2 separate regions of the Homo sapiens genome follow, and region 2 is linked to region 1. The links come from fine-mapping of genetic effects on gene expression. A gene starts in region 1. The other region holds a variant in brackets. All regions are shown on one strand. Distances are from middle to middle.

Region 1 (5,381 bases):
GTTTGTCCATGTCCCATTTGGCCAGAATTCCCTTTTTGTTATGGGGAGTTCTTTTCTTAATCGCTGGTTACGGAAACACCCAGAGTATTTCCAGTCATTGGAGAAGTGACTGGCCAGATGTTTCTTTTTTTTCTCCTTCCAGAACTCTTTGGTAAGGATTGAGGAGGTATCCTGAAAGTCTTCCTTCCACAGTTCAGGGTTTGGGCAGTTCATAATGTGGAATCTTTATTTAGGATACTTAAATCTATATATGTTTATACAAATAACTTGTTTTTGTTTTGTAGGAGGGTAGTGGGTTTTAGGAAGGTTTCGTTTACATATTTGTGGCAAGACACAGGTTTTATACCCATCCTTTCACTACTGCTTTCTCAACAGCCCAACAGAGAGCCGGTGATAGAAGCAGTTGCTATGCCCCTACAGAGCCTGGTTGTCATCTTTTGTTTCTTTGTTGGCAGGGCGGTGGGGCGGGACGGGAGTGGGAGGGTGTTGAGCCGCAGGGATCCAAATGATTCCTGCCTGAAGCTGAAGACCTTGTTGGGAAGGGACGATGGGAATAAACGTGCTCTTGATTCCCTGATTCTTCCCCCTAGAGTGTTCAGCTCTTTGTATTTCCTCCCCTTGGTGGTGTGATGGTCTTACAATGCTCCCTCTTTGCAAATACCTATATCAAAAGCTGGGAAAATGGGAACACACGGTTCAGAGAACTCCCCCTGGCGTCACTCTGTACTACCTCTCTTTCTGAAACTGAATCTGGTCCCCCTGCTCAGGAGCACAGAGACCAGCCCGGAAGCCGACCTTGGGCAGCTGCCGCCACCCAGGGAAGGGAACAGTTGGAAGCTTTGGTGTTCGCCCACCGCGCCAAGAGGAACTCTTCCCGGTAACTAGCACCAGCCACGACTCCAAGCCTGCCTTATTGTAACCTCTAGCGGGTTCCCAACTCGGCAATAGCTTCTCGCTCTCCTGTCCCTGTTCTTGCGGAGGAAAATTTAAAACGTGCGTGCACATATACGCATTCACACACGCCCTTCTTTCTTTACTTAAAAAAAAAAAAATCAGTAAACGTCCTTCGCCCAAAGAATGTTCGACTCTTCACGCTCTCTTTTCTTTACCTAGAGGTCAGCAGTCCCTTGGGAGCACACGCGGTGCTCCCTAGCTGCTCTGCGCGCCCCCTACCTGCCTACGGCTGGGGTGGCACCGCGGGGCAGGAGGCCTGGGAATCCGCTAGACTCCTATTTCTCCAGTTTGTGCAGCTCCCCTGGCTCGGCACTTGGTATCTCCCACGGTCTTGCTCTCTGTGGGAAGCCGGAAAGAAGACTGCTGTGGGCGTCGCCGCCACCCCTCCCGGAACCAGAGCCTGCTCTAGCGTGCATCCAAGCCTCCTACTTCAGACTCACATCTGGCCCAGTCGGACAGATGTTAGCCGCTGGAGAGTGCCTCCATGCGAAGCGCCCCAAGTCCCGAGCATGCCCAGTCGGACTACTAAGGCTTCTGACGCGAGTTTCTGGGCGTGCAGATTCCGCTTCTCCGCTTTTTCGAGGAAGCTGAGGAGGGTTGGGAGGGAGGGAGGGATCCAGGGCTTGGGGCAGCGCGCTGGGTTCGCCCGAGTACGTGCCCTGGTGCCAGGCTGGGTGAGGGGCGGAGCCGTTTAGGGAGCCCAGGAACCTGGGCGGCCAGGCAGGGCAGGATCCCTTAGCGCTCCCCTCTTCCCCCAACCACCTTCAGGTGGACGTCGTTACTGCTGATCTGATGCGCCGCCAGTAGGCTGCATGTGGCCGGCCGGCCTTGGCGCTCTGGGGTCACACTGTCAGCAGGACGCAGTCGGCGGTGCACTCTCACCGACAGACGCACGAGAGCTTGTGGGTCGCTTATGCACCGCATTCACGGGCTTTTGGCTTTTCTGGAAGGCGGGGGAGAGGAGAATAAGAAAAGGAAACCAAACAATTTCTCTCCCCCCGCCCTTTTTTTTTTTTTTTTGCCAAAGTTATACTGGCAAAAGACTTCGCATTCTAAGTCAGTCCTGAGGCTTTGAACATAGAAGCAGTGATTGTGCTCCTGTGTGTGCGCTCGTGTGCGCGCGCGTGTGTGTGCACGCGATGTTTGTGTATGTCATGACTAGGTAACACTGTCCCAGGCTGATCCTGGGGTTGACAAATACTCATCCGAACCCCCCACCCCACCCCTCACCCTCAGGAGAAAGTAATTAAAAAAAAAAAAAAAAAAAAAACATCGAGTGAGTCACCTGGCCAGGCATCTATCCACTGTAGTAGGAAATCTAAATTTTGTTGATCCATATTTCCTTCCTCTGCTTCCATATCCAGCTTTCTCCTTCCCCTCTCCACCCTATAACACCCTGATCTTTCTCATTGCGACTTCCCTTCCTCTGCCCGATACTTGCTCCTTAAGCCCTTCTCCTCTTTCTCCTCCTCCTCCTCTCCCTCTCCTCCTCCCCCCACCTCCCTCCACCTCCCATCTCAGCTGCGGCTAAAACCTGGAGTCTTGGGGAAAAGGAGAAAAAAAAAAAAACCTCGGCTGTGAAGCTGTCAAACCGGGCATGCTCAGTAGACAGGGCAGGTTTTTTGGTCTCGAGTAGCGGAGAAACATTTTTTGCACCACCGCGACCAGCCTTAGAGCGCGGCGGCGGCGGCCACGGCAACATCAGCCCAGCCATCAGCCGAGCAGACGCCCAGCACCCGGGAGCGCGGCGAGCTTCGGCTCAGCCCGGAGTTCACCTCCGAGTGCCCCGGGGGCTGAGCTCACCCCTTCTGCTCTCTCACACACGAACACTCTCTTTCACTCACACACACACACGTATTCACACTCTCTCGCACACACATAGGACCCTGGGCGCAAGCACCCTTCTGGCAGCGGTCGTCCGCTGGTGCAATAGTAGCTAGGTTCGGTTCCTGCCTCCGGCGGCCGCCGGTTTAGAGCACCGCTGCCAGCAGCCGGAGGAGAGCAATGCGGGGGCCCGAGCGGCAGCTCGAACAGTAATGTGGATTTACAGTCGTTTCCCGCAGGAGTCGGCCGAGACGCCCTAAGTCCCGGGCACTGGCAGCGCCCGGCGGAGCCGAGCACCTGGCGAGGGGGCGGGGGAACAGCACCTGGGGACGCCGCCGAAACTTGCGCTTGGAATAGGTAGGTGCGTTTCTCCTGGCTCCCACCCCATTCCTTCTCGCTCCCGCCCGCCACCCCCAACCTTCTACCCCAAGGACTACAGGCGAACTTCGCCCCGAGGCTGCAGGCGGCGGATGGCGGCTCCTGGCTGTTAGCGGCCGGTTGAGTCCGCTCTGGGACTCCTGCCCGAGGTGGCAGAGCCTCCGCATCCTTCTTCTCCCGGTCTCCGCCGGCCATGGGGCTCTGGACCATCTGGGGCAGAAGGGAGGTCGGCCTTGTTCGCAGTTCAAGCTTCCAGCGGGCCCTGGGGACGCTGCCCTTCGAGGGCTCGCTGGGCTTCCCAGGCGGCACTTTTACCAACCAACTCCTTCAGTTCTGAGAGGGAGCCTCCTCGCCTCGGCTCTCGCGCAGAGCCCAGTCACTCTAACAAGTGGACCTGGGTGCTTGGGGTGAGGATGGGAGGCTCGGTCTAAAAAGAAAGAAAGGGGCGCTTCTCTGGCATCCCTCCCACCCTGGAGCGTTCGCCTGGGGCTCTGCCACTGGGGTCCAGGTCCTGCTGTCTCCGCAGAGAATATGCCCAAGGGCTAGGACGCACTTTAGTACCTGTTTGCTTCTGAATTTCTATTTGAGCCTCACTCAGGGAGCCCGGGTTCCCGGGGGAACTGCAGGACCTCCTAACCTACGCCGCCGTCGAGGGCCCCACCCGATGCGTCCTCCCTATACCTTTGTCAATCTTTGTCAAAAGAGATAGTCATTACAACCCAGGCGGTGCTCCAGGAGCCGTCGGTGTTGACTTTAACCATGCGCTCCAATGTGCGGGTTTGTGTGTTTCCGCATTTCATCCAGAGACTTGGTCCCCGAGATTCAGCAACGGCCAGCATATCTGCGAGCGCCAAGCACCCGCTAGGCAGGCTTGGGGAAATGTAACCTCACTTTCTTCCACTCCATAACAGGAGGATTGCCAATTTAGTTTCAGGATGCTTTGCCTAGAGGCGGAGAAGGGGAGATTGTTAGCGCTACTTGGTGAGTGGATGTGTTTGCAGTCAGGAGTGTATTTAAACATTTCAGTGAACCCGATGCAGTCAGTTGTTTACAATTGCGGAGACAGAGGATCTCACTCCACTAGTAGATGTTTCCACGTCTGTGTCGCCACTGGGAGAGTAGGGGCGGGGGCGGGGGCTGGTTTGCAGCTCGTACTCGCCGTCGGCAGCTTCGGGTTGAGCAGATCTGCATCACTGCTACTGGCGATATGCTAATAGGGGTAGAAAAGCTCTACATCTCCAATATGAAGCAATTGGTCAGTAAACGTCCTGAACTTAACCGTTGTTTTCCTGGGATACCAACCTGGAGGTGTTTTTGAGGTGGCCCAAAGAAATACAAAGAGAAGTTCTCAGTGCTACAGAAAGGAAATTAGTAGCCATTTGGTTTTAAAGACCAAAAGGAAACGAAACATCCCAGTGCACTCTAATAGGTACTGTTAGATTAGCGTTTAATTGATCGCGTTTGTGACGAGTAAGTGTCGCAGACAGCTTCCTTGAATTTTAGACTCTTGTTCTATGATTATAATTAACAAGCCAGGTAACAATGTACTGTGAGAATCAATTGCTACTCTTAACGTGTTTGAGGAGAACATGGCAAATGTCTGCTCTATTATATTTTTTGGCTGAAATAGCCCAGTTCATCTTCCTAGTCCGAAGTCTTCTGATCTGGAGCAGTAGATACTCCAGTGTTACCAAGAAAGGGAAGAGTCTAAGAGGGAAAGGCTTAAAAAACAAAATTAATGAAAAGGCGATCCACACCTTTAACTTCTGCTCCATGATTACCCAGCATCTGCTTGCTTGCTCACCCCCGCTCCTTGCTCTTCATATCTGCAACGTGGGGAAAAATGAATTTTCATAAGGCATAGTAAGACCCTCAAAGTACATAACTGGAGAAACAGAATCCCAATTTTGCCATTTTAGTTCAAGTTCATAACACTATTTTGTGATGCATTAAATAATTTACTATGGCAAAGTTGGGGTTTTTAAGAGTAATTAAAAGCTTTCAGGTATGACAAAATAATGTTGAAAACTTTTCATGATTAAAGAAAGTCGAAATATGCATTTAAAAAGGGATCAGGTAATTCCTAAAATAAATCCATGCTCTAAATATTATTTAAAAGTTTTCAGGTTGTTCCCCAGAATGTTTCTGAAAAACAGGTGTTTCTATAAAACAACTCTATGAAGAAATGTTAACATTTTCATAATAAAACTAGTAGAGTCCAGTCC
Region 2 (5,381 bases), 88 kb before region 1:
TCTCCTAGGCCATTTTATATTCTCATGCTATGCGTATCCCTAAAAAAAACTAATTTATTTTCATAGCTTTAACTATCACATCTATGACTGCTGACCCCTAAAAAGACCACCAAAATATCTTGTTGATCTGACAAAGTTGAATGTATTCTGTGTTGTATTAAGAGAAAACACCACCTTGATAGACTTTTAGTAGTGTCTTGGAAGGGGAAGGGAAAGGGCAGATCTTCATACAGTTTTGGGATTTGTCTTAAGGAAGGTCTTTCAAAGAAGGGATCTGCCTGGAATCGGAAAAAAAAGTTGTAACACAGATTTTTAGATTGGTGAATGCAGCAAAGCAAGAATTTTGAAGTGTCCTGATGAGTAATCATTTGATAAGCAAGCAGTTTGCACATTGAGTGATCTGTCATCCTGAGAATGGTGATATTTACCCTGATGAGTAACTTCTTGCCTTGAGCAGGGCAGCTAACTGATCAGCTTATTGTTCAGATAAAAACCTTGTTGCAACTTTATTTTCCTAGGCAATAATGTCCTGAAATAGTAAAGTAATGTTAACCTTGACAGCCTTAGTTCTTGAACTCATTAAGCAGTATGTTTGCAGGAAGTTTGTTCTCACTTCTAGTCCAATAACTTGCAAATAATATCTATAAGATACAGTCTCACTTACTCTAGATGACTGCTATGCCAGGTCCTATTTTCAGTTTCATTTTTATTAATGGTACTAATATACTTCAGGAATCCTAGGTTTGAAGCCTAGGCATTATATTTAACTGCTCTTTCAAAATGACTCCCAGTATTCAACCAGTCATCAAGTTTTGTCTGTTTATAATCTCTTTGATAAAATCCTCCAAAAAGTGATGAGACTAGCATAAGGAGGAAGTAATGAGCAGCCAGGGCTACTTCCTCAGATAGACTGAAGGAAAAGGTAACTTCCTGAATGAAATAATGGTTATGTATGTTAAAGCAGTGTCACAATTACTCAATTACTTGTTAGCCTGAGTCTAGGGTTACACAACTTCCAGAACTGTGATGTAAAAAGAAAAGGTTAAATTGCAAAACAAATGATAGGAGAGAGAAATTTGGAAACCACTAGCAAAACTGAGTGCAGTGCTGTGAAATGTCTTCATCAAGATCTACAACCAGTTAGAAGTTAGAGGTCTGGTATGGTTTGAATGTGTTCACCAAACTTCATATGTTGGAAACTTAATCCCCAAAGTAACAATGGTGGGAGGTAGGAACTAATAAGAGGTGATTAGGTCATAAGGGTTCCACCCTCATAAATGGATGAATGTTATTATCATAGAAATGAGTTCTTTTATCTCTAGATGGGGCTTATAACAAAAGCGAGTTTAGCTCCCTCTTGCTGTTTTGCTCTCATGCTCTCTTGCCCTTCCACCTTCCACCATGGGATGATGCAGCAGGAAGGCCCTCACCAAATGTTGGTGCCATGCTCTTGGACTCCCCAGCTTCCAGAACCGTGAGTCAAATACACTTTTATCATTTACAAATTACATGGCTGTGTGGAGTTAGCTCATGCCTGTAATTTGAATACTTTGGGAGGCTGAGACGTGAAGATGGCTTGATGTCAGGAGTCCAAGACTAGCCTGGACAACATTGAGAGACCATGTCTCTATAAAAAGTTTTTAAAAATATTTTCATTGATTAGAAAAATACCTAATTTGAGGTATTCTGTTACAGCAACACAAAATAGACTAAGACGGGGTCCCTATAAAGTCAATTTCAGTATATAATCAAGGTTGACTAATAAGAAAAGAGTAAGTATTGGCTGATTGAAATAATGAACCCTTACCATCTTTGTGAAGCATTCAGGAATAAAAGCAAAGTATTGTTGCTCTGTTCTAACTTTCTCTAGAGGATAGAAACCATACGACCATTAGCTGACTATTCTTCCTCAAGAACATAAATTCCTTCCTTCCCACTGACCACCAACATTCTGATCATGGATAGTTTGATATTTGGGGAATTGTGGATTCTGGTTCCCAGTTGGCAATGAATTCTTCACCACAACAAACAGGCTTGAGCCTGTTTTCGTGATTCTGTGAATGTCAGGTCTTTCTGATAAAAATTAGTATTCACCAGTAACTAAAAAACAGATAGAGGCTATCTGTCCTTAACCCTAAAAACCTGGCTATGAGGAGAAAACAATCCTCAGACCAAATTCCAACAAAGGTACTCACATTTCTTCACAACCTGTTTATAGATAAAAGAGGCCCCTCTTTCTATCCTTAAGTCCACCTTGCATAAAAAGTTTACTCTAAAACAAATGCAATTGCATTCTTTCACCTAAATGGCAGAATGTGGAAGCTTGTCGTCCTATCAAGGGGTAAGATTTTCAGTGAAAAGGAGATGCAAGACCAATAAGTTTCAGTCCTGGAATGTACCTATGACACAAGACTTCCGATTTCCAACACCTTGCAGATTTCCAACACCTTATTCATACCAATGAGGTTGGTCCTCTTGCACTATTCACAGACAATCACATATCTAAAATACTGTTATTTTTTCCAATCAAAAAATATTTTTAACATTCCTGTGCAAATTGGCCAACCCTAAGTTGATGTATTCATTTAAGATACCTCACCTGCTAATTAGCCCCAAGTGTTGCTTCAGATAAAGACATTTCATATGCTAATTAGTTACCCCTGGGATTTTAATTAGAATTAACTTTTTAATGTTATTCATCACATTGTTTATACAGCCATGATGTATTTTAAATTCCACTCAGACAATATAACTCAGTAAATGCTGCAGGCCCATATATGTATAAACATCATGAAAGCCCACTCCATACTCCATAGCCTGGCTGGCAGAACATAGAAGAACTACATTTCAGACAAGTGGGATGAGCCCAGCCTGTTAGCTCTGCCTCTTAATGTATAATTGCACGTTCTAAAATTTCAAATATGTAGCATTATCTTCTTCTTCTCTGAATTCTCAGAGCACTTTTGGATTTATTATAAGATCCATAAGGAAAGGATCCAGTTTGTTTTGATCACTGCTCTGTTCGTGGCTTACAGAATCGTTTCTGATGAATGAATGTATCAATGAATAAACACATGAATGTGTAAGCTCAGTGATCCCAGACTATGACTGAATCTCTCTGAGCCTCTGAAGTTTCCTTATACATAAAAAAGGAATAGTAATAATACTTACTTTATATTACTAATGTCATATTCTTAACTCAAATGCACTTTAC[A/G]TGGTGCCACTACATTAATTTTCTTGAAACACTATTTTATACAACCTTATCACTGCACTTACCATATTGTTGTATAATTATCTCTTTCTGTGTCTGATTTTCCCACTGGACTATGAATTTGTTGAAGGCTGACACATGATATTTTATATTGTGTCCCCAGATCTAGCACGGTGAAAAGCACATATTAGGTCTCAATGAATGCTTGTTGAATGAATAAATCTGCTTGAGTCATTGCAATGGTTGAAATGAATATAACCATAATTTATATCAAGTATCTGAGTACCAAATTTAATTTTATACTTATTTTCAAAGTTTGCCCACTGTAAATATTTCTACTTTATTATTAAATTGTACCATGCTAAAAAGTTAGGTTTTCAAAGGAAATTAATTCCTCAGAGTAAGTTAACTGAGCCAGTTGATTTGTGGCTATGTGTACAAAGGCAAATGAAATAGAAAGTTGAGTAATTGCTCTGTCAATTTAGTCAATATTGACAGCCACTCTGGAGCACACAGTTTACTTTTTACTTAAATAGTACAGATAATTGTCTCAAATCTAAAAAGAAAGAATGACCCTGCATTTGTTCCCCATATGACATAAAACTGGTTACTGTGAGATGGAAAATTAAACCATATAAAAAGGTACTAGTATGAGGGTACTAATTCCTTAGGCATCAGAAGTACTTACTTATAAAGTTCTTTTCCCTTTAAGATAGCTACATGGTATGACCCTTAGGGAAAACGCCTCTGAAGACTCTATAGTTTTCAAGGAAAGGCACCAAAAAATTGAAATACATTTCCACCCTAAACACATTACTGACAATTCCACATCAACAAACAAGCTTAATCCTTCTTTAGACATATTTGTCTTGCTAGTTAAAAAAAAATTACTAGAACCATGACATTCCCAGTTATTTTGGAATAACTCTAAAATAAGCAGAGACCTTTAAATTCCAAATACTGAATTTTTAAATATGAGCAAAAGCACTTGAAAATAAACATTTATATTTTCATTTATAATTCTTCCAAATTCTAATTATATTTTCTGCATTCTTATCTGCATATGATTTTTACTTAAAACCTAGATGATGGGTTGATAGGGTGCAGCAAATCACCATGCATATGTATACCTATGTAACAAACCGGCACATTCCGCACATGTATCCCAGTACTTAAAGTTAAAAAAAAAAAAAAATCTGAAATTATTAAAAGATGTATATTTTTGCTTATTTTAAATTCATTTTTATTAATTGATAGTATCACCATTCATTAAAATTATATAAATTGATTTAAATATTAAAGCTAAGCCTATGTAAATTAAATGCCATTTGTTAGTAAAAATTGAATTTTGCTAAGAGTTTCAGGTTGATTTAGTTGCAATTGAGCCCTAAATTTAGTGCTCATCTTCTTGGACTCAAACATAAATTGAAAACATTATGGGATTTTATAGTTCTTATTGTCTAATAATAGAAACCAAAAATATTTGTCTACAGAGACAAATGTTACCAGCATTTAATTATTGTATGAATGCTTTGAGGAGCATGGCATAGACTTTGAGAAATATGACAGGCATCGACCCTCATTTTGGTTTTGTCTTGCTCCGTTTTGTACTGCTATAACATAATTCCACATCCTGAGTAATTTATAAACATTATAAGTTTATACCAGGCATGGTGACTCATGCCTGTAAATTCCAGCACTTTAGAAGGCCAAGGCAAGGGGATCACTTAAAACCAGGAGTTTGAGAGACCAGCCTGAGAAGCAAAGCAAGACCCCATCTCTACAAAAAAATAACAAATAAAATAAATTATCCAGGCACGGTGGTGTGTGCCCATAGTCTCAGTTACTCAGGAGGATGAGATGGAAGGATTGTTTGAGCCCAGGAATTCAAAGCTGCAGTGAGCTATGATCATGCCACTGCACTCCAGCCTGGGCAACAGTGAGGCTGTCTTTAAAAAAAGATAATGGAAAGAAGTTTATTTGGCTCATGGTTCCGGAGACTAGGAAGTCCAAGAGTATGACACTGACATCTGGTGAAGGCCTTCATCCTTCATCATCTCATGGCAGAAGGTGGGAGGGTAAGAGTGAAAGAGTAAGAGAGGGCCAACCTCATTTTCATAACTGCCCACTCACAATAACAAACCCACTCCCTCATGACCTAATTACCTCT

Alleles and levels. Alleles are on the strand shown, and positions count from the first base shown. SD is a standard deviation of normalised expression in the study named.
For the expression in neutrophils of the gene that starts at base 2,627 in region 1, allele G in region 2 goes with a lower level than allele A (large effect, 0.75 SD a copy in CEDAR).

The links.
Region 2: its variant is fine-mapped to the expression of TENM1 in neutrophils (CEDAR, PIP 0.95).

Annotation. Positions count from the first base shown.
Region 1 is chrX:125,201,558-125,206,938 of GRCh38, reverse strand. It overlaps TENM1 (teneurin transmembrane protein 1), which reads left to right and starts at 2,627. Exons shown (of 35, transcript NM_001163278.2): 1 at 2,627-3,135. LOC124905211 (a long non-coding RNA gene) reads right to left here and starts at 2,479. Exons shown (of 2, transcript XR_007068314.1): 1 at 2,240-2,479; 2 at 1-1,897.
Region 2 is chrX:125,289,631-125,295,011 of GRCh38, reverse strand. No RefSeq gene overlaps it. Among named protein-coding and RNA genes, the nearest start is that of TEX13C, 28 kb to the left of the region's middle. The variant A/G (reference allele first, on the strand shown) is at 3,215.